Linked DNA regions of Homo sapiens: regions 1, 2, 3 and 4 are each linked to region 5. The links come from fine-mapping of genetic effects on gene expression. A gene starts in region 5. Each other region holds a variant in brackets. All regions are shown on one strand. Distances are between the middles of the regions.

Region 1 (6,226 bases), 87 kb before region 5:
TCAGTTTTCAGTGCCCTTCTCATTAGATATCTGAGGGAAACCTCTTAATTTGAAAGATAGAGATCAAAAAAACAACCTAGAAAATACTGTTTTAAGATATCAGACTAGGGCTGGGCGCGGTGGCTCCCGTCTGTAATCCCAGCACTTTGGGAGGCCTGGGCACGCAGATCACTTGGTCAGGAGTTCAAGACCAGCTTGGCCAATATGGTAAAACCCTGTCTCTACTAAAAATACAAAAATTAGCCAGGCATGGTGGCACGCGCCTGTAGTCCCAGCTACTCAGAAGGCTGAGGCAGAAGAATCGCTTGAACCTGGGAGACGGAGGTTGCAGTGAGCTGAGATCACACCACTGCAGTCCAGCTTGGGTGACAGAGCGAGATTCCATCTCAAAAAACAAAAGATAACAGACTATTTTAATATCCTCTGAGGGATAAAAGTAGATACAACATACATACAACAAGAACCCAATGCTATAAAAATGGAATACTCAAAGGACTAAAAAACTCTTGGAAATTTAATTCAGTGTGAAATTTGACTGATAAAGGTAAAGAAATTTGCCAGACAGTAACACATAAGGACCAGTTCAGACAGTCTGATAAGAAAAGTTCTAGAAAGAGAGAAAATGGGAGGAAGTCCTTAACAAAATAACAAACACAAATTTCTTTATTGAAGAATAAACACAAATTTCTTCATTGAAAAGACTCACTAAAAATCCAGGATGATAAATGAAAACAGATCTATTTTAAGACAATTTGTTGTGAAAATTTTAGTACATTGGGGCCAATTAAATTCTAAATATTTTCAGCGATTGAAAAAGCAGGTTTCATAATAATCAGAATGGCATCAGATTTCCTAGAATCAACACGAAAAGCTAGAAGACAGTGGAAGAGAGTGGGTCCATGCCTTAAATGCTGAAGGAAATTATGCCCAACATATAATTCTGTATCCAGCCACACTGTTTAGTGTTTGCATAGAATAAATACATTCTATGCATATCCTAGGTTTCCAAAAGTTCACTTCTTATGTCTTCTTTCTTAGAAAGCTACTAGGACTTGTGTTTTCCCAAAACTGGGTAGTGAAAGTAAAAGACGTTGGAGGCAGGAATTAGAGGGTCTGCTAGGAGAGGAGTGAAAGGAATGCCGCACAATGATAAAGGAAAGCCCAAACTGGCCTCAGACAGCACTCACTCTAGACTAGAAGCTAATCAGAAGGCAGGTGCAATCATAGAACAGCTAATGAGCTTGAACGTTTTAAGAGGAGATTTATGCAACTGGAAAAGTATTTGGGGTTTAACGATAAGAATGTAGACAATAAGCAAATGGAAGTGGAGATAATTTTTCTAGCTAATAGTATTTTTTAAAAAAAGAAATTGGGGTATGTTCCATGGCTCATCTGTGGGGAGAGTTTACATAGTCATAATGATAACTGTAAGGGAAGGTACAACATATGTGTATATTTGGAATGGTTGGGAGGAGGGTAAGTGTAGATGTGTATGTGTGCAGGAAAGAGACCTGCAGCTTCACCTTTCCTAATAAAAAGTCAATACATTATGTTTGAAATTAAACAAATCACAATAAGTCAAGGAAGTTAATAAGTAAAAGAAGTAAATACCAAAAAAATGGACTGAAACAGTTGAAAATGTTGCCTTGGGGAGTGGAAAATGAAGTGAAAGAGACAGTAGGTACTGTTGTTTTTTGCAATAAGTCTCACAGACTGTATGACTCTGTTTATGTGAAGGTATATATAATTATATAGCTATGAAGGTATATTTTAAACTATCTGAAAGTATATGTAATTTTGATAAAAAATTAAAGCTAAATTAAAAATAGTAAAGGATATTTGTGAAGAAACAGTTGAAACCAGGAAATTTTGCTGTAGGACAGCAATAAAAATTCAAGGACTGCTTATGGGAATTATTACCTAAAAATAGCAAAAGTGAAACTTGATCAGGTTTTTAGGTATTCATTTGGTTTTGGTAGTTAAGCTTTCATACAGAATAGCCCATTGTTACATGTTAGACATATTCCTGACAGGCCTTTAAAATGAAATTTTATATTTAACTCCTTCTTTCCCGTGAGCTTTTTATATAAACAAATAAAGTAAATCATAACTTTCAGATTGTCTGATTTTAGTGAAATGCTTTATAAGAAATATCTAAGTTTTTACAGTACTGAATATCATGAGTGTTCCAGTGTAGGATATAATAGGCAAGTTTAATAATTTTTGTGATCCCGAGTCAGTTCTGAACTTGGGAATCTTTATGGTTACTACTTAAGCATTTTGTGACTTAGGTTTGTTAGATGCAGGCTAAACAATTTTTTAAATTTTTTGTGTGCATTTGTCATTTTAAGTATGTATGTGTTTATGGGTGCAAACTAGGGAGTAGTTTCAGTATATATGGTTATCGTGTATAAAAATAATTTAAAGAAAATAAGCACTCTTAATAAAAAAATAAATTTAATTGGGTTCTTTTTTGGGGGGGTTCTCCCAGATTGATTTAATATTTGAAAATAGGCCGGGCATGGTGGCTCACGCCTGTAATCTCAGCACTTTGGGAGGCCGAGGCGGAAGGATCACGAGGTCAGCAGTTTGAGACCATTCTGGCTAACACGGTGAAACCCCGTCTCTACTAAAAATACAAAAAATTAGCTGGGCGTGGTGGCTGGCGCCTATAGTCCCAGCTACTTGGGAGGCTGAGACAGGAGAATGGTGTGAACCCGGGAGGCGGAGCTTACATGAGCCAAGATTGCGCCACTGCATTCCAGCCTGGGGGACAGAGCGAGACGCCATCTCAAAAAAAAAAA[A/T]TTTTTTTTGAAAATATAAATTTACCATATTAACAAATAATCGGGAAAAGCTATTTGATCCTCTCTCAAAATTTTGCAGATGGGGAAGGGAGGTAGAAGGAAAGAGTGCTGGATTCTTTATGGGAGATCCTTGAGCCTCCCTCTTGGTGCAGGACAACTTATCAAAACTCACCATTCCAAGTTAGGGCTTCTTGATAAGCACTCACATTTAAAAACAGAATCTTTTATTGTGAAACATCACACATACACAGAAAAGTACTTTCCTTCAAAATATATAGATGAAACTGATTTATCACAAAATACACATTTGTAACCATCACACAAGTCAAGAAAGAGAACATTGTCAGCACCCCAGGAATACTCTCTCATGTCGCTTCCGAAACACTGCCTTCTCGAGTTCTTGTGTTTAAGAAAAAGGAAAATATTTTCTGGTTATTGTATTTTAAAATTGAAAACTAGTGTCTTAAACTCAGAAGTACCAGTTTGTATTTATTTATTTATTTATTTATTTATTTATTTATTTATTTATATTTTATTTTATATTTTTAAGACAGAGTCTTGCCCTGTCACCCAGGCTGGAGTGCGGTGCAATCTTGGCTCACTGCAACCTCTACCTCCTGGGTTCAAGCAGTTATCGTGCATCAGCATACCGAGTAGCTTGGATTACAGGAGTGTGTGCCACCATGGCTGGCTAATTTTTTTTTTTCTTTGGGATTTTTAGTAGAGATGGGGTTTCTCCATGTTGGTCAGGCTGGTCTTGAGCTCCTGACCTCAGGTGATTCACCCTCCTTAGCCTCCCAAAGTGCTGGGATTACAGGTGTGAGCCACCACGCCCGGCCCACCAGTTTTTATTTTTAAAAATTATTCTTCTTTACCATATTAAGAAGACTAAAGAGAAATTAACGGGAATCACAGAAGAAAAAATGAGAATGGGAGAAACAAGAGATTGAGAGTCTTCAAAATAGAATAGGAAAAAGATAAAAACGTCATTTCCATAAATTCAGAGACCTACCAAAACCAGAACCAAAATTAGGATAGATATGCACAATGAAAAGATACTGTGCACACAGATGAAAGAATTTTCATGGGGCAGTATCACCACATATTTCTTTAAGGCGATTTCTGCTAAAAATCTTTTAGATGGGTACTTTTGAAATTATAGCAAAATCAGTATATTATTTCATAGACACTTTGTGCCTTGGATTTAATATTAAGTTGAAGGTTTCTTCATTTTTTTTTTTTTTTTGGAAACTGAAAATTAGTGTTTATTGAATACCTAAAATGTATTCAGACAAAAATAGACTAGAACTAATTAGCATAATTATTGTAATCCTAGATAAATATCAAATGTCAGAAAAAGGGTAATTTTTATTTTTATTTATTTATTTATTTTATTTATTTATTTTTTTAATTGATCATTCTTGGGTGTTTCTCCCAGAGGGGGATTTGGCAGGGTCACAGGACAATAGTGGAGGGAAGGTCAGCAGATAAACAAGTGAACAAAGGTCTCTGGTTTTCCTAGGCAGAGGACCCTGCGGCCTTCCACAGTGTTTGTGTCCCTGGGTACTTGAGATTAGGGAGTGGTGATGACTCTTAAGGAGTATGCTGCCTTCAAGCATCTGTTTAACAAAGCACATCTTGCACTGCCCTTAATCCATTTAACCCTGAGTGGACACAGCACATGTTTCAGAGAGCACAGGGTTGGGGGCAAGGTCATAGATCAACAGCATCCCAAGGCAGAAGAGTCTTTCTTAGTACAGAACAAAATGGAGTCTCCTATGTCTACTTCTTTCTACACAGACACAGCAACAATCTGATTTCTCTATCTTTTCCCCACATTTCCCCCTTTTCTATTCCACAAAACCGCCATCATCATCATGGCCCGTTCTCAATGAGCTGTTTGGTACACTTCCCAGACGGGGTGGCGGCCGGGCAGAGGGGCTCCTCACTTCCCAGAAGGGGCGGCCGGGCAGAGGCGCCCCCCCCCCACCTCCCGGACGGGGCGGCGGCTGGGCAGAGGCGCCCCCCACCTCCCTCCCGGACGGGGCGGCTGGCCGGGCGGGGGCTGCCCCCCACCTCCCTCCCAGATGGGGCGGCTGGCCGGGCGGGGGCTGCCCCCATAAGCGCTAACTTAAGTTAGCGCTTATGGGGCTGCCCCCCACCTCCCTCCCGGACGGGGCAGCTGCCGGGCGGAGACGCTCCTCACTTCCCAGACGGGGCGGCTGCCGGGCGGAGGGGCTCCTCACTTCTCAGATGGGGCGGCTGCCAGGCAGAGGGGCTCCTCACTTCTCAGATGGGGCGGCCGGGCAGAGACACTCCTCACCTCCCAGACTGGGTCACGGCTCGGCAGAGGCGCTCCTCACATCCCAGACGGGGCGGCGGGGCAGAGGCGCTCCCCACATCTCAGACGATGGGCGGCCAGGCAGAGACACTCCTCACTTCCTGGACAGGATGGCGGCCGGGAAGAGGCGCTCCTCACTTCCCAGACTGGGCAGCCGGGCAGAGGGGCTCCTCACATCCCAGACGATGGGCGGCCAGGCAGAGACGCTCCTCACTTCCCAGACGGGGTGGCGGCCGGGCAGAGGCTGCAATCTCGGCACTTTGGGAGGCCAAGGCAGGCGGCTGGGAGGTGGAGGTTGTAGCTAGCCGAGATCACGCCACTGCACTCCAGCCTGGGCACCATTGAGCACTGAGTGAACGAGACTCCGTCTGCAATCCCGGCACCTCGGGAGGCTGAGGCTGGCAGATCACTCGCCGTTAGGAGCTGGAGACCAGCCCGGCCAACACAGTGAAACCCCGTCTCCACCAAAAAAATACGAAAACCAGTCAGGCATGGCGGCGCACGACTGCAATCGCAGGCACTCGGCAGGCTGAGGCGGGAGAATCAGGCAGGGAGGTTGCAGTGAGCCGAGATGGCAGCGGTACAGTCCAGCTTCGGCTTGGCATCAGAGGGAGAGCGTGGAAAGAGAGGGAGAGGGAGACTGTGGGGAGAGGGAGAGGGAGGGGGAGGGGAGGGGAGGGGGAGGGGGAGGGGAGGGGAGAGGGAGAGGTTTCTTAATTCTTGATTCAATTTCTGTTTTCTGATAATTTGGAATTCTGTAAGTAACTTTTTAAAATGTGGGGTATTCTCTTCCTTTTCTGCTAACTATACTTTGAGTTTCCAATACTGTAATAAAAAGGGAATAATTAAGAGGTTAAAAAAGTACTAATAATTGAGAAAATGAACACTTCTGTATATATATATAATAGCCTTTATATATATAGCTGTGTGTGTGTATAGTCTTTTAATGTAAAGCTTATCTGTAATTTTTCTGATTATAAGGAAGAGTCATTTTTAAGATTGTCCTAGTGTGTTGTCTCTTACTGTTATTTTTGTATTTTTATTAAAGGTGGGAACAAAGAAAAGATCCTCATGGTAGAAC
Region 2 (6,226 bases), 98 kb before region 5:
CAACAGCTGTTTTTAAATACTGGCTCTATAGTTTTGTCCTTTCCAGGATGCTACATAGTTGGAGTCCTACAGTGTGGGTAGCCTTTTCAGATTGGCTTCTTTCACTTAGCAAGGTGCATTTAAGGTTTCTCCATGTTTTTTGTGGCTTGACTTCTCATTTCTTTTTATCACTAAATACTCACTTATTATAAAGGCTCCTTGGTTACTTCAGTTTTTTACAATTGTGAAAAACATTGCTATATACATTTGTGTGCAGGCTCTTACGTGAATATAAGTCTTCAATTCAGTTGGATTGAGGAGTGAGACTGGTGGGTTGTATTTTTAAAGTATGTTTACTTTTGTAACAAACGGCCAAACTGTCTTCCAAAGTGGCTGTACTCCTGCATTCCCACTGCAGTGAATGAGAATTCCTAGTGCTTTGCATCTCACCAACATTTGCATTTCAAGGAGAGTTGTTTATTGTTTATTATTATTTTAACAATACTGAATCTTCCCATTGAGAGATATTTTATGTCTGTATTCATTCTTTTTAGTAATGTTTTTTAAAGTGTTTTCTTCACGCTGGTTGTGCAGTGGCTTACGCCTGTAATCCCAGCATTTTGGGAGGCCCAGGCTGGGGAATCACTTGAGGTCAGGAGTTCGAGTCCAGCCTGGGCAACATAATGAAATCCTAAAAATGCAAAAAAATTTAGCCGGGTGTGGTGACGCATGCCTATAATCCCTGCTACTTGGGAGGCTGGGGCAGGAGAATTGCTTGAACCTGGGGTGCTGAGGTTTCAGTGAGCTGAGATCGCGCTACTGCACTCCAACCTGGGTGACAGAGCAAGACTCTGTCTCAAAAAAAAAAAAATTTTTTTTCTTCGGATAGGTCTTGAAGTAATCTTGTTGTTGATCTTGTGTCTGTTCATTTTGCTGAAATGTTTTAGCTCCAATTAATTGGTTCTAATGGGGTTTTTAAAAAAATTTTCTTGTGTATTCTAAATAAATAATCTATTTGTCATTTTCACTACAAATGAGTTTTACCATATTCTTTCCAATGTTGTTATGACTTTTCTTAATGGATTGTCAAATATAATCAATACTGAATTGGCTTGGTAATTGTGATCTTCCTTGTTTTGTTGCTGATTTTAATTTATTCTTTTTCTTTTTCTTTCTTTTTTTTTTTTTTTTTTTTTTCTTCAGACGGAGTCTTGCTCTTTTGCCCAGGTTGGAGTACAGTGGCGTGATCCTGGCTCACTGCAACCTCTACCTCCCGGATTCAAGCAATACTTCTGCCTCAGCCTCCTGAGTAGCTGGGATTACAGGCACACAACCACCACACCCAGCTAATTTTCCTATTTTTTGGTAGAGACAGGGTTTCACCGTGTTGGTCAGGGTGGTCTCAAACTCCTGACCTCGTGATCCACCCGCCTCGGCCTCCCAAAGTGCTGGGATTACAGGCGTGAGCCACTGTGCCCAGCCCTGATTTTACTTTATTCTTGATCTTAATAGAAGTTCTTACAATAGGCTGGGCACAGTGGCTCATGCCTGTAATCCCAGAACTTTGGGAGGCCAAGTTGGGTGGATCATTTGAGGTCAGGAGTTCAAGACTGGCCTGGCCAACAAGGTGAAAGCCCATCTCTACCAAAAAATAGGAAAACTAACCAGGCGTGGTGGCGGGTGCCTGTAATCCCGGCTACTGGGGGGCTGAGGAAGGAGAACCGTTTGAACCCGGGAGGTGGAGGTTGCAGTGAGCTGTGATTGTGCCACTGCACTCCAGTCTGGGCCACAGAGCGAGACACCTTCTCAAAAAAAAAAGTTCTTAAAATGTTTTACAATTATTGTATATTAATGACTGTAGGTTTGTGATAGATAATCTAGATTACTTCTTAATTTTTCATGATTCTTCTTATCAGGCATTTTACCAAGATTTTCTTGAATGCTTTTGGTTTGTTTTGAAAATAATCATATGACGTTTATCCTTTAATCTGCTAACAGTAGATTTTCTAATGTAGTTTCCTAATATCAAATCATCCTTGAATTTATACATGATGTTAGTCTATAGTCTTCTTGTTCTGTTGTTGTTCAGTTTCAGCTTTGAAAGTTTACATTACCTTCCCAGAATAAGTTAGGACACTCCTTTTCACTTTTTCTCCCCTAATGTGTTATAACACCTTAAATAACATAAGAATGATCTATCCAATAAAGGCTTCATAGAATTTTCTCAAAAACCTTTCTGAGCCTGGAGCCTTTAGGAGGGATGATATTAGAACTTTCATCACCTTTTCCATTGCTGCTCTGATTTGTCTTTTTTTCTTTCCCTTGAGTTAGTTTAGCTAATTTCAAACTCATTGATATGAAATTGTACGTGGTATTTCTAATGTTATTTATATTAAACATGTTTTCTTTATAACACTTGGAAAGGTATATTTCATGGTTTCTCCAGCTTTCCTGAGTAAAAAAATCATATGCATTTGTTAAAAATGCAGATCCCCAGGTTCTTCCCTAGAGATTTCCCCTAGAGATTCAGTAAGTCTAGGATGAGGACTTAGATACTATATTTTCAGTAAGTTCTGGAGTCTTATCAGGTGCATTAGGAAATTCTGATCTTTTTTTTGGGTCTTTTGACCAAAATTCATTTTCTTCTACTTA[C/CT]TTTTTTTTTTTTTTTCTGTATCTGGAATGAATTCTAAGCTCTTTTGTTACCATTCTTTCTTACATCTTTAGGTACTTCTTTGGCCATGTCCAGTAGCATTTAATCTGAGTGTTTTCTTTTTGTCATTAATTCTCCTAAAATTTGTGATTATGTCTCCCTCTGCCATTTCCATTAGAACTTTGATATATGGTCTTCCAGTAGGTTTTGTTCTGTAATCTATTCACCCTTACAGTTTTAATTTGACTCATTTTTATAGTGACACGTAGTCGAACTAGATCAATCACACTTAAAATGAAAATTAGGAAAACTGTGTCACTGGATTGCAGTACTGGGTTATTTCTTGAAAAAGTGTAGAATGGGTTCTTGCAACCCCTATAGTACTATCTTAAGAACTGATGCCATCATACAGTTCCTACTATTGGCAAAACAGTTCGTTTGATGTTAGCTACCACTTACACAAGGGAAGGGCGATTGAAAGGGATCATTTTTCAGAGTTTAGATGGCCCATACAGACTTCCTCTCAGAATTGATGATTTGGAGGGAAAACACTGGTTATCTTAATGCTGGTTCCTCTCTCCTTAAGGTTGTTATTATTATACATACTTAAATTTTTATCATTTACATATTCATCCCTGAAATTTTGAGCAACAAAAATAAAATCTCCATTTTATTTTATGTTACATATTTTGAAAATATTACTTTGTCTGCTGTTTGGAGAATGGATTGTAGTTGCTTAGTCTGGATTAGGCTCTGAATAAGTGTAGTCAATTGATTAGGTAATTGATTGCTTTATCATTACTTGATAGATGATTTTATTAATTTTCCCTTCTCAGTTAATGGAGAATCATCCTCATTTGCACCAACTGATAATGCGTCTGTCACGGGTACTCCAGTAGTGTCTGAAGAAAATGCCTTGTCTCCAAATTGCACTAGTACTACTGTTGAAGATCCTCCAGTTCAAGAAATACTGACTTCCTCAGAAAACAATGAATGTATTCCTTCTACCAGTGCAGAATTGGAATCTGAAGCTAGAAGTATATTAGAGCCTGACACCTCTAATTCTAGAAGTAGTTCTGCTTTTGAAGCAGCCAAATCAAGACAGCCAGATGGGTGTATGGATCCTGTACGGCAGCAGTCTGGGAATGCCAACACAGAAACCTTGCCATCAGGGTATGTTAAGCTTTTTAATGTCTGACTTGCATTTAAGTAGCAACTCTGTTAACATACGATTATTGAATGTGTGCATAAAATGTTTTCATTGTTCAGAACTTTGAAATCTAAGTTGGGATCTGAATCATACTATTTATTTACTTGCTACAAAACAAGTACTTTTTGAAACTAAGAACAATTGCTCATCTGGTTGACATATATGTAGTACGAAGGGAAAAGAAAAAACCTGATGTTAATTAGCAAGACCCTCTTAATTTGATTCTTGGTTTATTTCTACTTTTCGTAAGAGTGACCATGATACTCCATATAATATCCTCAGTTCTCTGGCATCCTTGGTGATCTGTTTTCCAGACCTCATACTGGAGAGCAAATAGCTCTTCTTTTCCTCAGCTAATATTGAGTGCTGGGGAGTCACAAACCTTGCTGATTGGCTCTATTAAAAATGCAGTTTTTCATTGCTGGTTAGTAATTCTTAATCTCTTTTAAGTTTCTCATTATAATTACTCAACTTCCCATGATTTTCTTTAAAGAGTATTCTATATGTGTATTCCATTCGGTAATTTCTTTGACCTTTGGCACTGATAATACTAATATTAATTAATGATTAATTGTCTCTGCCTTCAAGAAGCTTATTTAGTGATTCACAGTTGTAAACGTGTACAGTATATACAGTACAGTCAGAAAGTATATATGGACACGTGCTTTCCAACACAGTTTACAGTGATCAGAATGTCAACTGTTGTAGCTATTGAAACTGCACTTCTAGATGTCTCTACACTATTGTCTTCATTTTGTTACCTCAGTCACTATGTTAGTGTACGTTGGTTTTTTTTTTGGAATTGTTTTTTTTTTTCTCAGTGCCCTTTACTGGCTCGTCTGATGTTGTCCACTGCTTAATTACGGTTTCAGCCTTTGGTCTTCCTTTGTGTGCTTACCCCAGTAGATCTAGCACTCTCCATTATTATTATTTTGGAGCAGAGTTTCATTCTTGTTGGCCAGGCTAGAGTGCAATGGCACGATCTTGGCTCACTGCAACTTCCGCCTCCCAGGTTCAAGTGAGTCTGCTGCCTTAGCCTCCCAAGTGGCTGGGATTAGAGGCACCCGCCACTATGCCCAGCTAATTTTTGTATTTTTAGTAGAGACGGGGTTTTTCCATGTTGGTCAGGCTGGTCTCGAACTCCTGACCTCATGATCCACCCGCCTTGCTTCCCAAAGTGCTGGGATTACAGGTGTGAGCCACCATGCCTGGCCAGCTCTCCATCATTTTAACTATTAAATCTATATGTTCAGGCCAGACTTTTCTTTGAGCTTATTTTCAACTACTTTTCCCTCTTCTGTTTCCTGGAAATGTTTCAGACCCTATATTAGCTTTCCTTTCCCTCTCAAAAATCTCTTGTCCTGTGTCCCATGTTTGGTAAATTAGTCAATTATCCTAGTCTCTCATGTGCCAGTCACTGTGGCAAAGACATATAAGAAGCTGTTCTTACTGTCAAGAACCTCATCGTCTAAGTGGTGGGGGAGGGGAAGAGAAGTAGACAATCAGCCAGCATACAGTACAATTAAAGCTATGCCAGAGGTAAGTTTAGGATGCCATGACAAGGAATACATGCAGAGAAGGAATGGGAGGAGTTACCTGCGCCGTTGACGTCAAAGAATACTTTCGAAAGCTATGACACGTCAGTGGATTCTGAAAGAAGAGGAGGAGTTAGCAAATAGTGGAGGCACGAGTGGTGAAAATTTCATTTTCAGTAGAGCCGACTGCACATTCAGATTCCTAGCACCCATGAAAATGAGTATGCTGAACCCAGGAATTATTATTTTGTTATAGTTTGAGTTCAGCATTTGAGGCAGCAAGATATATAATGCTGAAGAGAAAACAGCCCTGTGAAGAATTTTGTGTGATTTCGAAGGGTTTGGAAGTTTTTTCTGAAAACCACGAATAAGCATTAAAGAATGTAAAGCAGGGGAGTGGCATAATCCTCTTTGCTTTTATTAAGATCATTTTTGCAGTGGTATAGACAGCTGAGGAGTTAAGGAGTTGGGATAGCAGCCAGGCTGTTTTATAAATGAGGGAAGCCGGCATTCCAGTTCAAAACAGTAAGTACATAAACCTAATTCTGTTGAGACCAGATAAATGCTTCAGCAGACTTGTTGTCACCACTTATGATCTTTGTATTAGAATTTTGCAGTAATCTATATTAGTGTTTTTCAAATTGTAGAGTGCAACCCGTTAATAGGTTATGACCAGCATTTGAACACATAATGAAATAAAGAAATATAGGCGAGAATAGGAAATATTGGAAGATGTTAAATGTAGTAAGAATAAGCATTGTTTCCTGAAAGTTTGTTTTTCTGTGTGTGTGTGTGTGTGTGTATGTGTGTGTATGTAAGTAAAATCAGTAGATAAATAGCAATCTGGTATAC
Region 3 (6,226 bases), 40 kb before region 5:
TTTAAAATTTTTATCAGTTAATACCAGAATGGAATTGAGTATGGCAAGATTGAAAAAGTGTCATTTTAGAAGAGTTTATATATGTGGTTAGATTATTTGAAAAGACAAAGAAACATATATATTTGTTAATTGACTGTCTCTACCCCAGAATGTAAATTCCATGAAGACAGGGATTTTAGTTTTCTTCACTGTATCACTAGCTTATCAGTTATATAAAAAATTCTCGGTAAATGACTGATGAATGAGTGACTGAGTGGATGAAAGAAATGGACTCTTATCCTAAGAGAAGTTAAGAGGACTCATGACACATGTAACAGGAATAGTAAAAAGAAAATGGATTTTTTTTTTTTTTTAAATTTGTCTTTATCCATATTGCTACACTTATTATTTGTAATTCCATTTTCCTCTTGGAGATGTTAAAATAGTTTTTATATGTAAGTCTTAAATTTAGATTACTCTAAATACTTCTGGCAAAATTTTAACATATATAGTATACATATATCCATTCAGCATTTCTATGTGCTTTGAAAAGTATTCTATTAGATTTTTTTCATTTTATTGAAAACATCTGATTTTGTTTTTGTTTCTGTTCAGTTTTAATCGCTTGGATCTACCACCATATAAGAGTTATGAACAACTAAAGGAAAAACTTCTTTTTGCAATAGAAGAGACAGAGGGATTTGGACAAGAATGAATGTGGCTTCTTATTTTGGAGGAGCTCTTGCATTTAAATACCCCAGCCAAGAAAAATTGCACAGATAGTGTATATAAGCTGTTCATTCTGTACAGTGAATTTTCCGAACCTCTCAAAGTATGTTTTCCGTTCTTCCACAGAAATATGCAAAACAGTTCATCCTTTTCTACTTTATTTATTGTTCCCTTGAAATGACTGACCAGGAAAAAGATCATCCTTAAATTTTGAAGCAAGTGAGAGACTTTATTAAAAATACATATATATCTATATAAACATATATGATAGTGGCTCTAGTTTTATAGAGCTCCAAGTGTATTAAACATGACAGCCATTCATTCATAAAGATCTGGATTTGCTTTACCTTGTTAATATTATCTAGGGGAAAAAGTGCAAATTGCTCCATGTTCTTCTCTCCCTTATGTAACATCTCCTGAGGGTGTTTAGTTGCATGGCTGTTCAGAAAGGTATTAAGGGCTTAGGCCAAATCTTACTTTGAGTATGTTAAAAAAAAAAAAATGCTGCTGGCTTTTCTGAAGACAGGTGCTTGAACTTGTCAGTTTGTTTTAAATAAATACAATAGTTGAAAATTTTTCTCTGTTACATCAGTAATATTGTTAAAGTAATGGATAGAACCATAACTTACACATGAAAGTCATATACTAGATCCAATACTATTTAGTTTATTATCGAAATTGGAAGGATTCATTGAGCAGCATAGAAGTTTGTTTACATGTTACTTTGAGATGCTAGGTATTTGTGGAATTAAAAAGAATCAGGCTCTTTTGTACTTTGTTTTTAAATCTGTGATGCTTTTCAAATTTAATTCATAATAAATTGATGCAATTTCATACTTAGGAACATACAAAAGGTAATGTAAACTCTGCCACTTTTTTGTGTTCAAAATTTTGGTTTTTATGAAGCCAGATGGATTGAAGAGTTACATAAGCATTTGAATGCTCTAATATAAGGCTAATGATTTTCTGTTAGTGTTTGAATATCTTCATTCCTCTCAAATTCATAACAGTTCTATTTAACTGAATTAAATAACCATATGAAAAATCTTTTGGGTCTCCCCCTTTTTACACAGATAATTATTTTTGTCATAACACTTTTTAATTGTTTTTCATCATAGGGGCCTTTGCTGAACTACAAAAATGTGTAACAAATTAAAATCTGATGTGAATGATATTAATGCTACTTTTAGCAAACTGGGCTTCCTAATACAAAATTTTAAATTTCCATTTGTATCATGCTTTTAATATGCACTGTAAATTTCATTAACTTAAACATTTTTTAATAGCCATGGAACTGACTTCTTAAAATCTGTTGCCTATAAATATTTCACTGCTAAGTACATACAGAAAAACAGTAATTATTGTTTTGCCAAAATTTTATTTTTCTACATATTGAGAGTGTGTTCTCCATTTTATTCAGAATTCATAGTAAAGACGAAAGAAAGGCAGAGATCTGCTTGGTTGAATAGACTCCTTTTCCAAATCCTTATTATGAACACTCTGGTAATTTTCAAGCCTAAAGAATTAAAAAAAAAATTCTAATGTATGTGACAGGTTATGTGATAGAGGGAAACTGGCCTTCAAAAAGGACTGCGTATACCATAAAAGAGTTAAGTATTAGAATTACAAATGGTACCACTGCTGTATAAATTTTGCCATGACAGAAGTTATTGAATATCATTCATTGTAGGTATGATTTAGCAGATTTGACTGAAGAAGGCAGCTTTCCAGTTCGTTTTCAGGGTGCTGGTCTCCCTCAAGTAAGAAATTACGATGCACTAGGTGAGGCTACACAGAACCCTACAAGAGACAAAACCAGCTTTGTTTTGGAGAATTCATCAGGGTCTTCCACTTTTCATACCCAATTATAGATATCCAAGACCTACAGGCAGAGCTCTTGATTTATCTACCCAGTAGCAGTCAGAAAAACTGTAGAAATATGGTCCCCCACTCACCTTCTCCCCTTCTTCCCTTCCCATTCCTGTTCTGTGCTGGACTAACCGAAAGAAATTAGGAGTGCAAGACTCTCTGTGCCCAAAACACAGTTCATGAGGAAACAGACAAGAGGGAGGCTCAGAGACAGGTTTATATTGCTACTTCATTTTGGTGACTCCCCCACCCCCACCACCAGTAAATGGCCCAGGGAATAGCTCACAGGCCCAA[T/C]ACAATTCTGTCTGTTAGATCAGTTAAGCAACACAATTCTATCTGTTAGATCAGTTTAGTTGTTTGTCTTCCAGGGAAAGCAGCTTACCAGTGTTTTTTTTGTTTGTTTGTCCCGCCCCCCCCATGTACTTCCCAAGTAGTTGAAAATGAAAAGGTTAACAAAACCTTTTCCCCTGATGACTTCTGTTAACTACCTAGCTCTTCCTACCCTGACAACTAAATAGGATGGTATGTGTCAACTGTATTTATTGCCATGCAGCTTTGCTTTTGGTAAATATGACCCTGACTGGTAAGTTGCATCTGGACTGGGAAATCTCCAGATACACGACAGAAAGCCACAGCTTTGGGCATACCTGAGTGGAAAACTCTTGTAACTGTATGTCCTTTAAGGAGGACCGTGAGCTGTCACCTGGGGAGATACCATTTCATAGATTGCTGTTAGAAGACCGTCTTCTGAGAGGAGGTTCAAAATTGTCCTGCTGGTGAGCTGTGTGGTTCCTGTCCTATAGCCTTCTGAGTAGACTGGTGCCAAATACAGCCTATTGTAGACTTATTAAGTCTGAATGTTTGGTTGAACCTAAGATGATGTGGTGGATGTTGCAGAAGTAAAAATCTTCCTCTGTTGAAATAATACACAACTAAAAGTTCTCCTGTAACACTCAGTTGGCCTTAAAAGCCAAGCTTTAGGTCAACTGAGGATTTGATCTAAGTCCAAAAGTGACATCTCCTATATTCCAAAATTTCTCTCCTCAATTCTCAACCAAGAACAAAATCAGAGATAATAGTAGTTGTATTTACTGGTATTCATGGTAAATCCTTTACATAAATTATTCTCTTGATCCTTACAATTCCATGAAATTGGTGGGGTTGTCTTTAATGATGCTTATTTTATACATGAGGAAAGTGAGTATGAGAGAAGCCATTTTTACAACACCCACAGCTAGTACACAGCCCATGATTAAAAACTCAGTTGAGATAACTTGGCCATCAAGAAATTGAGAGCTTTTAGGTTCTTATAGAATCACGGCCATTTTCCAAAATCAGTATTCTACTCATATCCTCAAAAGGAAGGAAGGAAACATCTATAATGGAGAGATATAGCCTATGTATGTAATAACACTTAGAACACAGAGTACTACCAACTTACTTTGATATACATGTACGTGGGGAAATAAGCATCTCAATCCAGCAGTCAGCTCTGGAATCCACACAAGAACAATCAGGTGGGGGCTGCACGGGAAGGAGAATGTAAGGGATTCCTGGGGTTTGTTCTCAGTAATGGGTCTCACCCTTAGTGGGGAAACGTCACGGACCAATGTGACACGTGGGGAATCAGGCTCCTGGGAAGTCAAATGGAAGAGACTTAGTGCACAGAATCAGAATCTTGGGAAGGCACCATGTCTTGCAGAAGAAACCTAACCCTCAGAGAGTAAAGGGGAAAAATGAAGATAAAAGGACCCAGGAGCCACACTCCTGGGCATGTATCCCAGAGAGATAAAATCTATGTAGACATAAAAACCTGCATATAATGCTCATAGCAGCTTTATTTGTAATAGCTAAAAATCAGGAATAACCTAAATGCCCCTCAGCATATGGTTGATATGGTATGCCCATAAAATGAAATACTAGTCAACTGTAAAAAGAAACAAACTATTGATAGAACTTAGGTCTCAAGGGAATTATGTTGAGTGAAAAAAAGTATCACAGGGTCTCACTGTATGATTCCATTTGTATAACATTGTTGAAATAACAAAATTATGGAGAACAGATTAGTGCTGTCAGAGTTAGGGATGGGTGGGGGAGAGGAGGAGGTAGATGGGTGTGACTGTAAAGGGACAGCACTGGGGATCTTTGTGATGACGGAACAGGTCTGTATCTTGATTATGGTGGCAGTTACCAAAAATCTACATGTGATAGAATTGCATACAACTATACACACAAGAGCATTTAAAAGTGGTAAAATTTAAATATAAGGTCTGTGGTCTGTACCAATGTCAGTTTCCAGGTTTTGCTATTGTACTACAGGTTATATGAGATGTTAGCACTGGGATAGGCTGAGAGAAAGGTACACAGGATCTTTTTTTTTTTTTTTTCAATTTGTGAATCTATGATTTTTTGAAAGTAAAAATATTTTTTAAAGTTCTAATAAGGAATCAGGAGGTAAGACCTCCATAAAAAGCTTTATTATTGAATGATACCTGATCTCACAAAAAACAAACAACTAAGCAGAAAATATTCTTGAACTAACCCAGACCCTTTCTTCCCATTTGATGACCTAGTATTGCTGGTAACTCAACATAAAATTACATCCCTAGGGAAAAAAAATAAAGTCACTCTAAAGAGAAATTGAAAATGAGAAAAAGGAGAGTAAACTTTAACACAATATGCTAATATGAATTAAATTATTAGATATTTAAAAAATCTGAAATAGCAACTTAAAAACTCAGAACTGGACAAACAAAATGCAGATGTGAATGACTGGCTAAAATCAGGAAAAAAATTCGGAGAAAAAGACAAACACATATCAGATGTGAAGGCAATTATAAAGTATCTAAGGAAGAAGAGATACAACCAAATGTAAAATAAGGGATATGGAAGATATAAATGAAAAGAGCCAAGAAAATGAAACAAAAAGGCTAAAAGAAAAATCAGTAAGTGATAAATGTGAAAGTCAGGCAAAGATCTAATAGAACTAATTTGAGTCCTGGAAATAAGTTGGAACAGCGGTTCTCAAAGTGTGGTCAATTAGACCAATCTGGAATGCGAGAGAATCTATGACAACCGGACTGGCCTATTCAAAAAGTCAATGTTGCAAGAAGAAAAAGATGGGGAACTGTTGTGGATGGAAAGATTAGCAACAAATCAAATGCAATGTATAATCTTTGGATCCTGATTTTAGAAAGCATGAGACATCTTGGGGACATTTGAGAAAATTTGAATATGGGTAGATATTAGATGATGTTAGAGAACTGTTAACTTCTCCAGTTGTGATAATGGTTTTGTGTTTGTTTAGGAAGATGTCTTTATTCTGAGAAAATGCATGCTGACACATTTGGGGTGAACTATTATGATGCTTGCAATCAGTTTCAAAAGGTTTAGAAATGTATGTGTCTATACACACACAAACACACATGTATAAATACAGGTTGAACATCCCTATTTCCAAAAATCTGAAACCTGAAATTCGTGCTCCATAATTCAAAACTTTCTGAGCACCAAAATGATGCTACAGGTAGAAAATTCCACATCTGACCTCACATAACAGGTCACAGTCAAAATGCAGGTGCACAACACAGTTTATTCGGTCTCCCTAAAGGAAAAAACCCATTTTAAAAAGCCATCCAGCAGAATGCCA
Region 4 (6,226 bases), 130 kb before region 5:
TAGGACTCCAAGTTGTTGCTCCTTTTATTAGATTACAAAGACCTCTGTATTGATTTTTTCTTTTTTTTGAAATGGAGTCTTGCTCTGTTGCCCAGGCTGGAGTGCAGTGGCGTGATCTTGGCTCACTGCAACCTCCCCCTCCTGGGTTCAAGTGATTCTCCTGCATCAGCCTCCCAAATAGCTGAGATTACAGGTGCATGCCAGCATTCCTGTCTAATTTTTTTTTTTTTTTTTGTATTTTCAGTAGATACGGGGTTTCACCGTGTTGGCCAGGCTGGTCTCGAACTCCTGACCACAGGTGATCCGCCTGCCTCGGCCTCCCAGAGTGCTGGGATTACAGGCTGAGCCACCACGCCCAGGCTTTTCTTTTCTTTTTAAAAACAGTAAGTACTCAGATTAAGACCCCTCTAATATTGCAGTCTGGCTGTTTATTGTCTGTAAACCGAGGTTCTCTGCCCTAAGCCAATTTTTTTTTTTTATTTTTAGCATATTTACTCTTATCCTCATTTCTGTTCTTAACCCTTATCTGATTGGCAGCAACATGTAAGAATAAGAGCATTGATCATGGAACGCGGAAAAACTGATGGAAAAAATCAAACAGAAAACTACCTATTGTCATATAGTAATATACTGTAATGTACCAGCTACTCAAGGATAGTAGCATATAGAAGTGTATTATCTTCGATATTTTAGATTTTAGACTTTCAACAGGAAACTGTCAGAAGCATAGAGTATGCAAGATGTATAAAGGATGAGATTGAAGAAAAAATGGGCTGTTGTATTCATGTTTATAATTTTTTTTTAGCTATTGTGTCTTCTAAAGCATTTTCACTTTTTAAAGTAAAAGTGTCAAATCATATACCACTTATTTTTGTATGAGTGGTGTGAATTATAGACTTCATTCTTTTCAAATGTTTCAAAATTTATGGTCTCATCTATCTTCCCATTGATTTGAAATGCCACTGTTATGCATTAGTATCTTGCTTTTCTCTTTACTTCTCTTTTACATCACTGTCAAACCATTTTAATTATTTTCACTTTATGGTACTTTTTAAAAAAATATTTTGAGAAATTTCCTTTTATTACTTTGCATTTTAAAATACACGTTTACTGTTCTTGATTTTTCTTTGGCTTTTATTTGAATATTTAAGTCTCCCTTCCTTTTCCTCTGCCCCCACCAAAAACACTCAAAACCAATCAGTTGGTGTTTTTATTTTAAAATAATGTATTAAATTGGAGCTAATTGAAATATTTCAATGTTAAACTTTTCAAATCTAGGAATATATCATATCATTTTTTTTAAGCCTTTGTTTCCATTGGTAAAGTTTTATAGTTCTCTTCATGTGACTCTTACTTATTTCTTAAGTTTATTACTAGATTTTTTGAAGGGATGTTATTGTGAGTGGGATTTTTGAGTTAACTCTCCCTACCCTCTCACAGGTGACTCATTTTCTGATAGTTTAAAAATACTTATATAACCTTAGAGTGGAGGACATTCTGTGTATAACACCAAAGGAAACTCATTAAATGAGAAAAAAAATCTATATATTCTACTAACTAGAACAACTTTTTGAATTAATAAGGTTGTCTTCTAGTTATTTAAAATCACATTATTTATATGTACATTTTGCTAGCATATTTATAAATTCCTCATGAGATTAAAGATTATTATCTTTGAAAAATCTCTTTTCTTACCTTACCCTCTAGTATTGTTGAGTATTTTGCCAAGTAAGGGTATTCAGTGGACGTATTTTGGATGGATCTGTAATGAACTCAGAGAAGAGTTAATACTATATAGTCAGTAATAATAGAGTAACAGCTACCATTGTTGGATGCCAGACATTCATTGATGGTGATAGTGCCTTGCATGCCTTCACTCACCAATCCTAAGAATCAGGTACTGCTGTTCTTCTGATTTTTCAAGTAAGGGATGGAGAAATTAATTGACTTACTGTGGTCAGGCTTTTAGTAAGTGGCACATTTGAAAAATGAACCCAGATATGTCTATCCCTCTGCTTTTAACACCATCATATACTGACTTTTCCTTCTTCCAGTCTTCTGCTATATGGATAAGACTTACATATACTGAGGAAATATATGAGCACTTTTATTCAAAGAATCTTGGGAAGTTTCTTGGGAGAGAGCAAGTCTGGGCCTTCTATATTAGTCCAGTGGCGCTGAACTTAGAGCAGTTTGGAACGATGAAGGATGGAAATGAGTTTTGCTAAGACCCTGGTAGTAGCAGTTCAGACATAACATTGAACACTCTTTAATTGCTATGTTGCCGGTACTTAAATATAGTATTTGCTTGGAATCTTGCATTTATCACATTGTATTTCAGTGATTTATTTGTGTGACTATTTAGATTATTATTCTCTCACAATAGAATGGAAGCTTACATAGCTTTGGTTGTTTTTATATCCTTAACATCCGGTGTGTATGACATGAAAGAGGCTTTTCCCTTCCTCATCTCTGATCTAGGGTGTTCACAGGTAATTGATTATAGAGGTGATCTTGATAAGTTGTTCTTACTGCCTGTTCATCAGTATTTTGCCCAGAAAGTAGATAGTCCCTGATTTCTTCATATCTCAGGTATATTAGATTTTCACTTTCTGGAAGGGGTTATGATTAACTTTTATAATGACATTTTGATTTTTAAGCTTTTATTTGAAAATGCAAATACTACTTCTTTTCGAAGCTAACTTTCCAGATAAAACATTAAAGCATTTTTTTAAGTGCCACAGTTATGTAATTTCAGAAAGACAAGTTAATAGTACCTGGCAGGGATGTTAATGGGCATGTTGAATCTGAAGACACTTTTCCCTTGATCTTTAATGCAGTTGTTGGTGAGAATGTGGAGAAATCAGTGTATATTGTTGATAGGAATATAAAATGGTGCAGCCACTTTGGAAAATAGCCTGGCAGTTACTCAACAGAGGGTTATCACATGAGCCAGGAGTTCTACTCCAAAGTATATGCCCAAGAGAAATGAAAACATACGTCCACAAAAAAGCCTGTGCACAAATGTTCATAACAGCTTTATGCACAATAGCCACAAAGTGGAAGCAGTTCATATATTTATCAGTTAATAGATAAAATGTCATATACCCATATAATAGAATGGTATTTGGCAAGAAAAGGAGTGGAGTACTGGTGCATGTTACAATATGGATGAACCTCAAAAATGTAATGCTGAGTGAAAGAAGCCAGTCACAAAAAAAACCCACATTATATGATTCCATCTATATGAAATGTCCAGAATAGGCAAATTTAAAGAGACAGAGAGTAGGTTAGTGGCTGCCTAGGGATGGGGGTGGGGAGAGGGTTGATTGGGAGGAGAAAGAAGGGGGTGACTGCTTAATGGTATGGAGTTTATTTTTATGGTAACAAAACTGTTTTAAAATTGATTGTGGTGATGGTTGTGCCACTCTGAATATAGTGAAACCATTGAATTGTACAGTTTAAGTGGGTGAATTATATGATATGTGAATGATAGCTCACTAAAACTGTTACAGAAACATTCAAATGGCTCTCAAGCATTATCAGTAGCCCTTTTGTATTGTTTCTTCATTCTGCCAACGAGAAGAGTTCTAGTTGCACAAGAAGCACAATTCCATTCTTATTGATTGATTAGTGTGCAGTACTACTTTTTGGCAACACATACTCACTAGTGAATTATTTGTCTGTTAGTTTCTAGTGCCAAACTTAAAAGAAAAAAGAACTGGTTCGGAACAGCAATATATACAGAAGTAGTTGTAGATGGAGAAATTACGAAAACAGCAAAATCCAGTAGTTCTTCTAATCCAAAATGGGATGAACAGCTAACTGTGTAAGTACCTTGTGTAAAGGACGGAAAATCTTCACAAGAAAGTGTATTTTTTGGAATATGTTTTTTGTTTTGTA[A/G]AATGACTTCAAAGTAATGAGTGATTTTTTTAAAGTGTGGATCGACAATTTAAAGTATGGAGAAATTTTTGGTTAAATTTTTTTTTTAAGGGGAGGATGCATAATAATGCTTGCTTTTGCTTTATAAACCAAATTATTTCCATTTTCTCTGACTGTTTTGGTACAGAAATAAATAGGACTGCAAATTAGTCATTCTTAATTTTGGCATTTCAAAATAATAATGGCATAAATTTGTGTATAGTAAAAGTATCATGTAAGTCTTTAGACATTTGTTCAAATACAAACAGTGTTACTATGAAGTCTCAGTAAGACTCCTGTGTTGGTGTTTTGGCTTGCTGATTCCAAAAATCCTCATCTAGTTATTAAAGTCCTAATGTATTTGAAAGTAAAATATTTTTATTTATGATTCAAGTAGTTTCCTGTTTCATACAATATTTCTTCTCAAATAAATGAAATTCACGGTTTTTAAAACATTACTGAAATAAATGCTTTAATAGGAATTGTTACTTATTAATAGAATGACAACGTCTACTCCTGTATTTTTGTTAATAATTTTACCCTTCCAGAAATGTTACGCCACAGACTACATTGGAATTTCAAGTTTGGAGCCATCGCACTTTAAAAGCAGATGCTTTATTAGGAAAAGCAACGATAGATTTGAAACAAGCTCTGTTGATACACAATAGAAAATGTAAGTTTTTTGTTCTGACCTTTATTTCCTTATAAGTTTATTTTAGACACTTTGAACATATCCTGAATCCTAAAAGCAAAAACATAGTTTTGTATCCATAAAGAACTTCAGTTATTGCTTGTGATTGATTAACTTTGTGGCATTTTATGAAATAGGAAATATTTACCATGGCCTTTCTGCATTCTGCAGATTTACAAGGTAATCTCAGTCATCCACAAGTACCCTATTATCAGTGACTATCAGTCATTTATTATTTGCTTATTATTATATTCTTTAAAACTTGAGAAAATTATCATTACATGACCCTACTCTATTTTGTCACTTGACTACTAACAATTTTATTTGGGTAAAATAAATTGTAACTCTTAAGTTTTCTTTTATTATTATATAATTAGTTTATTGTAAAAAACATGAAGAAGATAGACAATTATAGAGTAATATAAAAATTTTCTATAATTTTACTATCCAAGGATAACCAATCTTAATAATTTGGTCACTGTCCTTTTGTTTTTCATAGACACAAACATATTTCTTTTTTGCTTTGCATCTACTAGTTTATCCTCTGCTTTCTAGAAATTTAACAATATACCATAAATATTAAGTTTCCATGATACTTTTTCTAGACTGGGATTTTAAGGTAGTTTAGAGTTTAATTATTTGTAAACCTCCTATCATATGCAAAAATATGGGGGTATGTACATATATGTGTAATTCTGGGGAGAGGGTTCATAGCTTTTATCAGATTCTCAAAATGTGTGATCCTCTGAATATTAAAAACCAGGGTTCTAGCTGGGGGTGGTGGCTCATGCCTGTAATCCCAGTACTTTGGGAGGCCAGGGTGGGCAGATCACTTGAGATCAGAAGTTCAAGACCAGTCTGACCAACATGGTGAAACCTCGCCTCTACTAAAAGTACAAAAATTAGCTGAATGTGGTGGCATGTGCCTGTTGTCCCAGCTACTTGGGAGGCTGAGGCAGGAGAATCGCTTGAACCCGGGAGGTGGAGGTTGCAGTGAGCCAAGATTGCACCACTGCACTCCCAGCCTGGGCGACAGGGTGAGACTCCATCTCAAACCCGCAAAAAACCAGGGTTCTAGTTTATGATTTTTAAATACCATGTAATGATTTCTCACACCACAATTTATTTAGTTTCCCGTTGTCTGACACTTAAGTAGCTTGTAACAGTTCACTAAAAATAGGCTCTTGCTCAAATCTGTAAATATTTTTGCTCTTCTTATTTCTGTAGAGATTCTCTTATTAATTCCTAAAAGTAGGTTTGCTGAATGAAGTAAGGGATGAAATGCTGATGATGAAAATAGCAAGTTATCTTTAAAAAGGTTCTTTCTGCAAATCCACATGTAACTTAAAGATCTGTTTTGATCTAGTTTTTGGAAATAAGTGAGTTATGAGTTAAGAAAATATAATTATGGATTATAATAATTAGAACTAGTAATTAGTAGTTAGTATAAACCATAATAATTTTTATATATTTGGCTTAAAACTTTTTCTTTTTCTTAAAGCATTGTAAGTTTGATTCTCTGCTATGCCATGGCATTTTTTTTTTTCTCAATGAGTCATGCAATTCATCTTGATACAGGAAGAAGTAATAGATTTTATAAGTATACAGTACCTT
Region 5 (6,226 bases):
CAAATGAGAAACTTAAAATAATCAGTTCTTGGTAGAGATTCATTATTTCTCCATTTTGTGCTTTAGGAGATTTTAGGTGTTGATTTTGTTTTATTTTAACTCATATCTTTAAAGGAATTCCCCAAAGAATGTTTATAGCTAACTTGGAATTTATAACCTCAGCTCTGGGATTTTTTTCTGAACGATTATTATCTAAAGGTGTGTTGTTGCCTTTAGGGTCATGCCATGCTTGTCTATGTCTGTTACCATGTCACTGTGGTCCTATGCCAAGTGCCCTTAGGGGGTCTCAATCTTTCCAACAGACCATGTTCGAGATAGTATGAGTCAATGTACAGTGTAGCCCACACTTGAGAGGATGAATATGTGTGCACTGTCCCTTTGCTCTGGATGGAAATAGGTTATTGTTGACTTATTTTTTCTGTGTTCCTACAGCCCCTTTTTCATATGTTGCTCAATTTCCCTTCCCCTTCTTGGTGCTTACACATCTCAGACCCTTTAGCCAAACCCTTGCTGATAACGGTATCTTGGTTCTCAGTTCTCACTGTTTCCTCTGGTCACGGAGACTTCAAATAAAAATGCACATAGCTATGGAGTGGGGTTTAGCTGGAAAAGGTGACCTTCTTCCAACTTCACGTCAACTTCTGGCTCCTCAAACAGTAGGTTGGCAGTTAGGCAGGGAAGTTGTTTTCCCATTTCTCACTGAGCAGATTGTGAATATTTCCATATGGATTTTCTATTATTAACATTACCCTGATTCTTTGTTTTAAAATAAAAATTCTGAATGTACGCACACAAAAAAACTCTAAATGTTCCATATATCTAATTTATGCTTACCTTTGGCTGTGGCATGAACCACAGCAGCCTGAGAGATAACCTGGTAAGTTTCAAAACCCAAATACGACAAAGCTGAGAGTAAAAGGCCTCTTTTGAAAGTTCCTGGGTTTCCCATTACCTATGGAAACAATTATGTTAAGAGTTACAAACTTTGAAAATTTGAAGGTACTGCTACCCCAAGCAAAAATTACATGAATTTTCTCCCACCCCCAAAGCAATCGATCATAATACTGGAAGCTTAAAAATTACTTCATCAAAATCTTTAGTAAAACTATCTCAAAGCGTATCTTATTGAGAAAAAGATATCCCCTGGAGTCGCCGCTCATCTAAAAATCACACTCCTGCTGGAAAGGAAGAGCTACAACTTATTTGCTACAACTTATTTGCAAATGCATGGATATTGCAAATTGTATGAAGTAAAATATGAGACACCAACACATAATAAAAATGAATCTTACAGACAAGATTATCATATATAGTAATTACTACATATAAAAATGTACATGGCTAACTTTTAAATTTTTTTGTAGAGACAGGGTCTCACTGTGTTGCCCAGGCTGGTTTCAAACCCCTGGACTCAAGCAATCCTTCCGCCTCGGCTTCCCAAAGTGCTGGGATTACAGGCTGAGCCAAGGGGCCAGGCCTAAAATGGGACTTCAAACTCATCATTGTTCCAATTTGAAAACTTACGGCTAACTAGTTTCATACTTAGAACTCCTCCCATCTCTCTGCCTATATTATCTATAACCTCCCCATTTGGTTATAAACTTCCAAGGAAGGGGAATATGCCAAATTTTAACCACCCCTCCCCACCATCAGTCCCATAATAATTCTGAAAGATTTTAACTGAGCAGTTAAAAATTTGAGTTTAAAATAATGAAACCCCTAGTTCATGTGAAATATATCATATGCATTAATGCCATTCCAATTCCCTGACAAGAATAAACAGAGGCCCACGAGCAGTCTAATAGAAATACCAGAACTGAGACTACAACATGCCGACAACCTTCATTGACGTTATGCAGATACAACGGGCAACTGAGAAATAAACATTTTTAAACAAAAACCTAAACAGTATGAAATCTCTGCTTCTGAGTCGTAGAACTTTTTAAATCACACACCACACTTTTCAAAGTCTGAAAGGGGCAGCCTCAAGCGCTGTTGTATCTGTCATCGCCTACAGGGAGAATAATTTCACAGCGGTCAAGGTTCTTTCCCGTCCTGTTTTACATTTCGCACAAGAAGGGCGGGTAGCAGGCAGCTTCTGGGGCGCGTGGGGGCAAACCCCACTCCTTCTCTGACAGCCCCAGTTAAGGATAGTGGAGGTTTGCAAAATGGAAGGGACCTGTCCGGGCGTTCCAGGCACAGTGGCCCCGAGTTCTTTCCTCGGTTCACCACATTCCTTAGGCAGCGCGGGGCCGCCACCACTTAAGTTAAGGGGGAGCCGGAACCCACTGAGTAGGAAGTGAGGAGCGGGAGCCAGGACCACGGGGGTACCTCGAAGCCGCGGAATCGACAGGGGCCGCAATGCCCGCGGCTGCCCGAAGTCCCCGCAGGGAGACGAGACCCCGGGGCGGCTCCACGTCGGAAAGGCAGAAGGCGCCACAGTCGAGCAGCCAGCGCCATGACCTGCAACTTGCGGGCTGACCCTGCACTACTTCAGGCAGCTACGGAGGCGGGCGGGGCTAAAGGAGATTCAATCCTTCCGGAAAGAACCGCGCCCGCCCGCCTCCTGCACAGCACCTCTTCCGCCTCCTGCCCAGCACCTCTTCCGCCCCCATGGTTTCCGGTGCACGGGCTTAGGGGGTGGGAAATACCCCGATTGGGTGGGACTTAATGGACTTTCCGCGCCTGCGTCCAGGACTGAGGCCGTGAGAGCGCTCTCTTCAGGCGCTCTGACTTGTTTCTGCTCCATCTCTCTAGGGGGTCTTTCATGGTTTGGGCACAAGGATTCGTCGCCAGAATAGAACTGAAAGCTCGGAAATAGACCCGAGAATACAAGTATGCCAGAAAAAAAATTGTCATTTTAATTATCTGCTGCCTTCAAAAGTAGATTGAATCTTGGTACTAGTGGGTCTTTTTTGGAAGTAAATAATTGGAAGAATTATGTTGCCCAACATGAAGAAGGGAAAGTCTCAGTCTCTTCGACTGAGCGACTCAAGGGGGTAGATTCAAGAGAGAGTCCAGAGCAAAGAAACAAAAAATGCAAAGCGTTTTGGGAAGAGGAACTAGCGGGAGGAGGCCTCTGGAAAGGATACTGATGCCCTTGAATGCTAGGGCATGTGTAGTAAAAAACAGAAACAAAAACAAACCCTGGTCTCCCCTAAAATTCTTCAATAAGATGTTTTACTTACTCGAGCAAAGTATTTTATTTTACTCGAGTAAAATAAAATTTCTTGCTCGAGTGGAATTCTTTTGTGGGAAAATGAAGAAATTTTGGATCCTACTTGAGGCCTGATCAGGGTGGGTGGAAACACAGACTGCAAAGGGAGTACCTACTATATGGGTTTAACGAAAAATCTTATGGGTAATAAGGGAGGCGAGTCATGGTTTTAAAAAATTAGGTTGCATTTCTATGGTACTTTTAATACTGTATAGGGAATTAATACATAGTCGTATTGATCTTCCGAACTACCTTGTGAAGTAAGTGGTATCCCAGGTTTACAAATGAAAAAACTGTAACTCAAAGAGATGTATTAACCTAACCAAGGATATGTTAGAAGACAGGAATCCATGTCTTTCTACTCTGAGTCCAGTGCTCCTTCTACTATATGATTGCTACCTCCACTAGTCCCATTAAATCAGCTGTATTTCTTTAGGATTATGTCTTTAAAGTCTATCTTTAAAAATATATAGATCTCCTTCCCAACTTCTGAAACCTAGCTGTTTTTTCCCAAAGACAGAATCACTTTTATTTTATGCATTTCTACTGGCAGCTACCCCCTCAACATTGCTAAATGTTTATGCCACTGGATACCATGATAACAGTGAAATTAAGTTTCTGATATCTCTGCTAGAGTGAATTTGTAATTAAGTTTTTAGCTTTGAAAAAAAAATTAGATCCTAAGAAAAGTTGCAGGAACTCCCATATATTCTTCAGCTAGATTCAGCCATTGTTACCTTTTTCTCACATTTGCTTTATCTTTCTTTACATATCTTACCTATAATACACATATTATATTCCTAGTATTTTCTGTTGTAAGGCCTTTTGAGAGTAGATTACAGATATCATGACTCTTCAGTCTTAGAAACAAGACATTCCCTTACTTAGTCCCAGTTTAATTATCAAATTCAGGAAACTGAAATTGACAGAATACTATTATTTAATATACAAATTTTGTTTAATTCCCAATACTGTCCTTTATACTAATGATTTTTTTTTCTAAATTCAAGATCAAATCTTGATAATGTCTTGCATTTGTTATGTTTCTACTTTCTTTAAATCTTTAAATCGTCAGCCTTGGTCTTTCACGACATTAGTATTTTTTAAATGTATAGTCCCATCGGTTTAAAGCAGGGTTTCTCAGCCTTGGCACAATTGAACTTTTGGGCTGAAGAACTCCTTCAGCCCGTCAGGCCATCAGATGATTGCAGCCTTGGCCAATATCTGACTGCAACATCAAGAGAGATGATGAGCCAGAAGCACCCAGCTAAGCCACTTCTAAATTCCTAAACCACAGAAGCTATGACAGATAATAAATGATTGTTCCTGTTTTAAGCCACTAAATTTGATGTAATCTGTTACACAGCAACTGATAACTAATATAACAGCCAAGTAAAGCATAGAGAGTTGGAGTGTGGAGTTTCAGAGGAAAGGTGTGGAAGTTTGATAACCTTAAGAATATAGGCTGGGCGTAGTGGCTCACACCTGTAATCCCAATATTTTGGGAGGCCAAATCGGGAGAACAGCTTGAGCCCAGGATGTTTGAGACCAGCCTGGGCAACACAGTGAGACTCTGTCTCTACAAAAACATGTTTTTCTTGTTGTTGTTTGTTTTTTGTTTTTGTTTTTGTTTTTTAATTTGCTGCATGTAGTGGTGCATGCTGTAGTCCCAGCTACTCAGGAGGATGAGCTGGGAGGATCATTTGAGCCCAAGTGTCCAAGGTTGCAGGGAGCGGTGATCACACCACTGCACTCCAGTCCAGGCAACAGAGTGAGACACCGTCTTTAAAAAAAAAAGAAAAGAAAATTAAAGAAGTTCGGGCACGGTGGCTCACGCCTGTAATCCCAGCACTTTGGGAGGCCAAAGCGGGCAGATCACGAGGTCAGGAGATCAAGACCATCCTGGCTAACACAGTGAAACCCCGTCTCTACTAAAAATACAAAAAATTAGCCGGGTGTGGTGGCGGGTGCCTGTAGTCCCAGCTACTCAGGAGGCTGAGTCAGGAGAATGGCGTGAACCCAGGAAGTGGAGCTTGCAGTGAGCCGAGATCGCACCACTGCACTCCAGCCTGGTGACAGAGCTAGACTCCGTCTCAAAGAAAAAAAAAAGAGAGAGAAAATATAGATGGAATTCAAAGCTCTGAGACTAAGGCTGGGCGTGGTGCCTCATGCCTGTAATCCCAGCACTTTGAGAGGCCAAGGCCAGTGGATTTCTTGAGCTCAGGAGTTTGACACCAGCCTGGGCAACATGGTGAAACCGCATCTCTACAAAAAGTACAAAAATTAGCCAGACACGGTGGCTCGTGCCTGTAGGTCCCAGCTACTGGCTGAGGTGGGAGGATCGCCTCAGGCTAAAGCCTGAGAGGTTGAAGCTGTGGTGAATCGTATTCGCACCACTGCATCCCAGCCTGGCTGGGTGACAGCAAGAACCTGTCTCTCAAAAAAAAAAAAAGAAAAAGAAAAAAAAAAGCTATAAGACAGGATGAGGTAATTAAAAATGTGACTGAAAGAGTGAAGGTAGAAATATGAGGATCAAAATACATAGGAGAAAGAATATTTTGTGAATATCTTTCATTTTAACATGCATTTAACTCTCCACCAGGTGGTGTTTTATTTCTAGAACCTTGTTAGGCTTGGTATCTAACATGAATTCAACACATGTTAAATTAATGGGTGAATGAATGAGAACAAAAGTAGAATGGGATTTAGACTGTAGTTAAGGAAAATGAATAAATACATTGAATAGCTATGGCACTATGTATTTAGATGATAGATTGCTGTTTGGATACTAAAAGTACAAAACCATCCCCTTGCCTCTACTCTTTCCCTATTTTAGTGTAAAGAAAAGTTTTGAAGGTTAGGTATGGATACTATATATTCTGGAAAATTTGAAACTTGCAATCCAATTAGTGGTGCCTAAGAACCTTCATTTACATGTGAAAGTAGAATCAAAAATAGAGCCAGAAACCTTTAGTAAAAACTAAAACACTTGTAGTACCTCCCCAGTAC

Alleles and levels. Alleles are on the strand shown, and positions count from the first base shown. SD is a standard deviation of normalised expression in the study named. Not every link is listed here.
As copies of C replace CT in region 2, the expression in monocytes of the gene that starts at base 2,526 in region 5 goes up (large effect, 1.1 SD a copy in Schmiedel 2018).
As copies of C replace T in region 3, the expression in CD4 T cells of the gene that starts at base 2,526 in region 5 goes up (moderate effect, 0.74 SD a copy in BLUEPRINT).

The links. PIP is the estimated chance that this variant, and not a neighbour inherited with it, causes the effect.
Region 1: its variant is the best candidate, but not a certain one, in a credible set for the expression of RMDN1 in lung (TOPMed, PIP 0.61).
Region 2: its variant is the best candidate, but not a certain one, in a credible set for the expression of RMDN1 in monocytes (Schmiedel 2018, PIP 0.59).
Region 3: its variant is the best candidate, but not a certain one, in a credible set for the expression of RMDN1 in CD4 T cells (BLUEPRINT, PIP 0.74).
Region 4: its variant is the best candidate, but not a certain one, in a credible set for the expression of RMDN1 in whole blood (INTERVAL, PIP 0.78).

The regions. Positions count from the first base shown.
Region 1 is chr8:86,419,030-86,425,255 of GRCh38, forward strand. It overlaps WWP1 (WW domain containing E3 ubiquitin protein ligase 1), which reads left to right. Exons shown (of 25, transcript NM_007013.4): 10 at 6,194-6,226. Among named protein-coding and RNA genes, the nearest start is that of WWP1-AS1, 78 kb to the left of the region's middle. The variant A/T (reference allele first, on the strand shown) is at 2,805.
Region 2 is chr8:86,408,073-86,414,298 of GRCh38, forward strand. WWP1 (WW domain containing E3 ubiquitin protein ligase 1) reads left to right here. Exons shown (of 25, transcript NM_007013.4): 9 at 3,466-3,802. Among named protein-coding and RNA genes, the nearest start is that of WWP1-AS1, 67 kb to the left of the region's middle. The variant C/CT (reference allele first, on the strand shown) is at 2,632.
Region 3 is chr8:86,466,200-86,472,425 of GRCh38, forward strand. It overlaps WWP1 (WW domain containing E3 ubiquitin protein ligase 1), which reads left to right. Exons shown (of 25, transcript NM_007013.4): 25 at 595-2,304. The coding sequence ends at 694. It overlaps RMDN1 (regulator of microtubule dynamics 1), which reads right to left. Exons shown (of 10, transcript NM_016033.3): 10 at 6,150-6,226. Among named protein-coding and RNA genes, the nearest start is that of RMDN1, 39 kb to the right of the region's middle. The variant T/C (reference allele first, on the strand shown) is at 2,872.
Region 4 is chr8:86,377,036-86,383,261 of GRCh38, forward strand. It overlaps WWP1 (WW domain containing E3 ubiquitin protein ligase 1), which reads left to right. Exons shown (of 25, transcript NM_007013.4): 4 at 3,691-3,829; 5 at 4,470-4,594. Among named protein-coding and RNA genes, the nearest start is that of WWP1-AS1, 36 kb to the left of the region's middle. The variant A/G (reference allele first, on the strand shown) is at 3,904.
Region 5 is chr8:86,506,161-86,512,386 of GRCh38, forward strand. RMDN1 (regulator of microtubule dynamics 1) reads right to left here and starts at 2,526. Exons shown (of 10, transcript NM_016033.3): 1 at 2,332-2,526; 2 at 835-952. The coding sequence starts at 2,460. It also overlaps the pseudogene SLC2A3P4. RefSeq lists an enhancer at 2,271-2,440.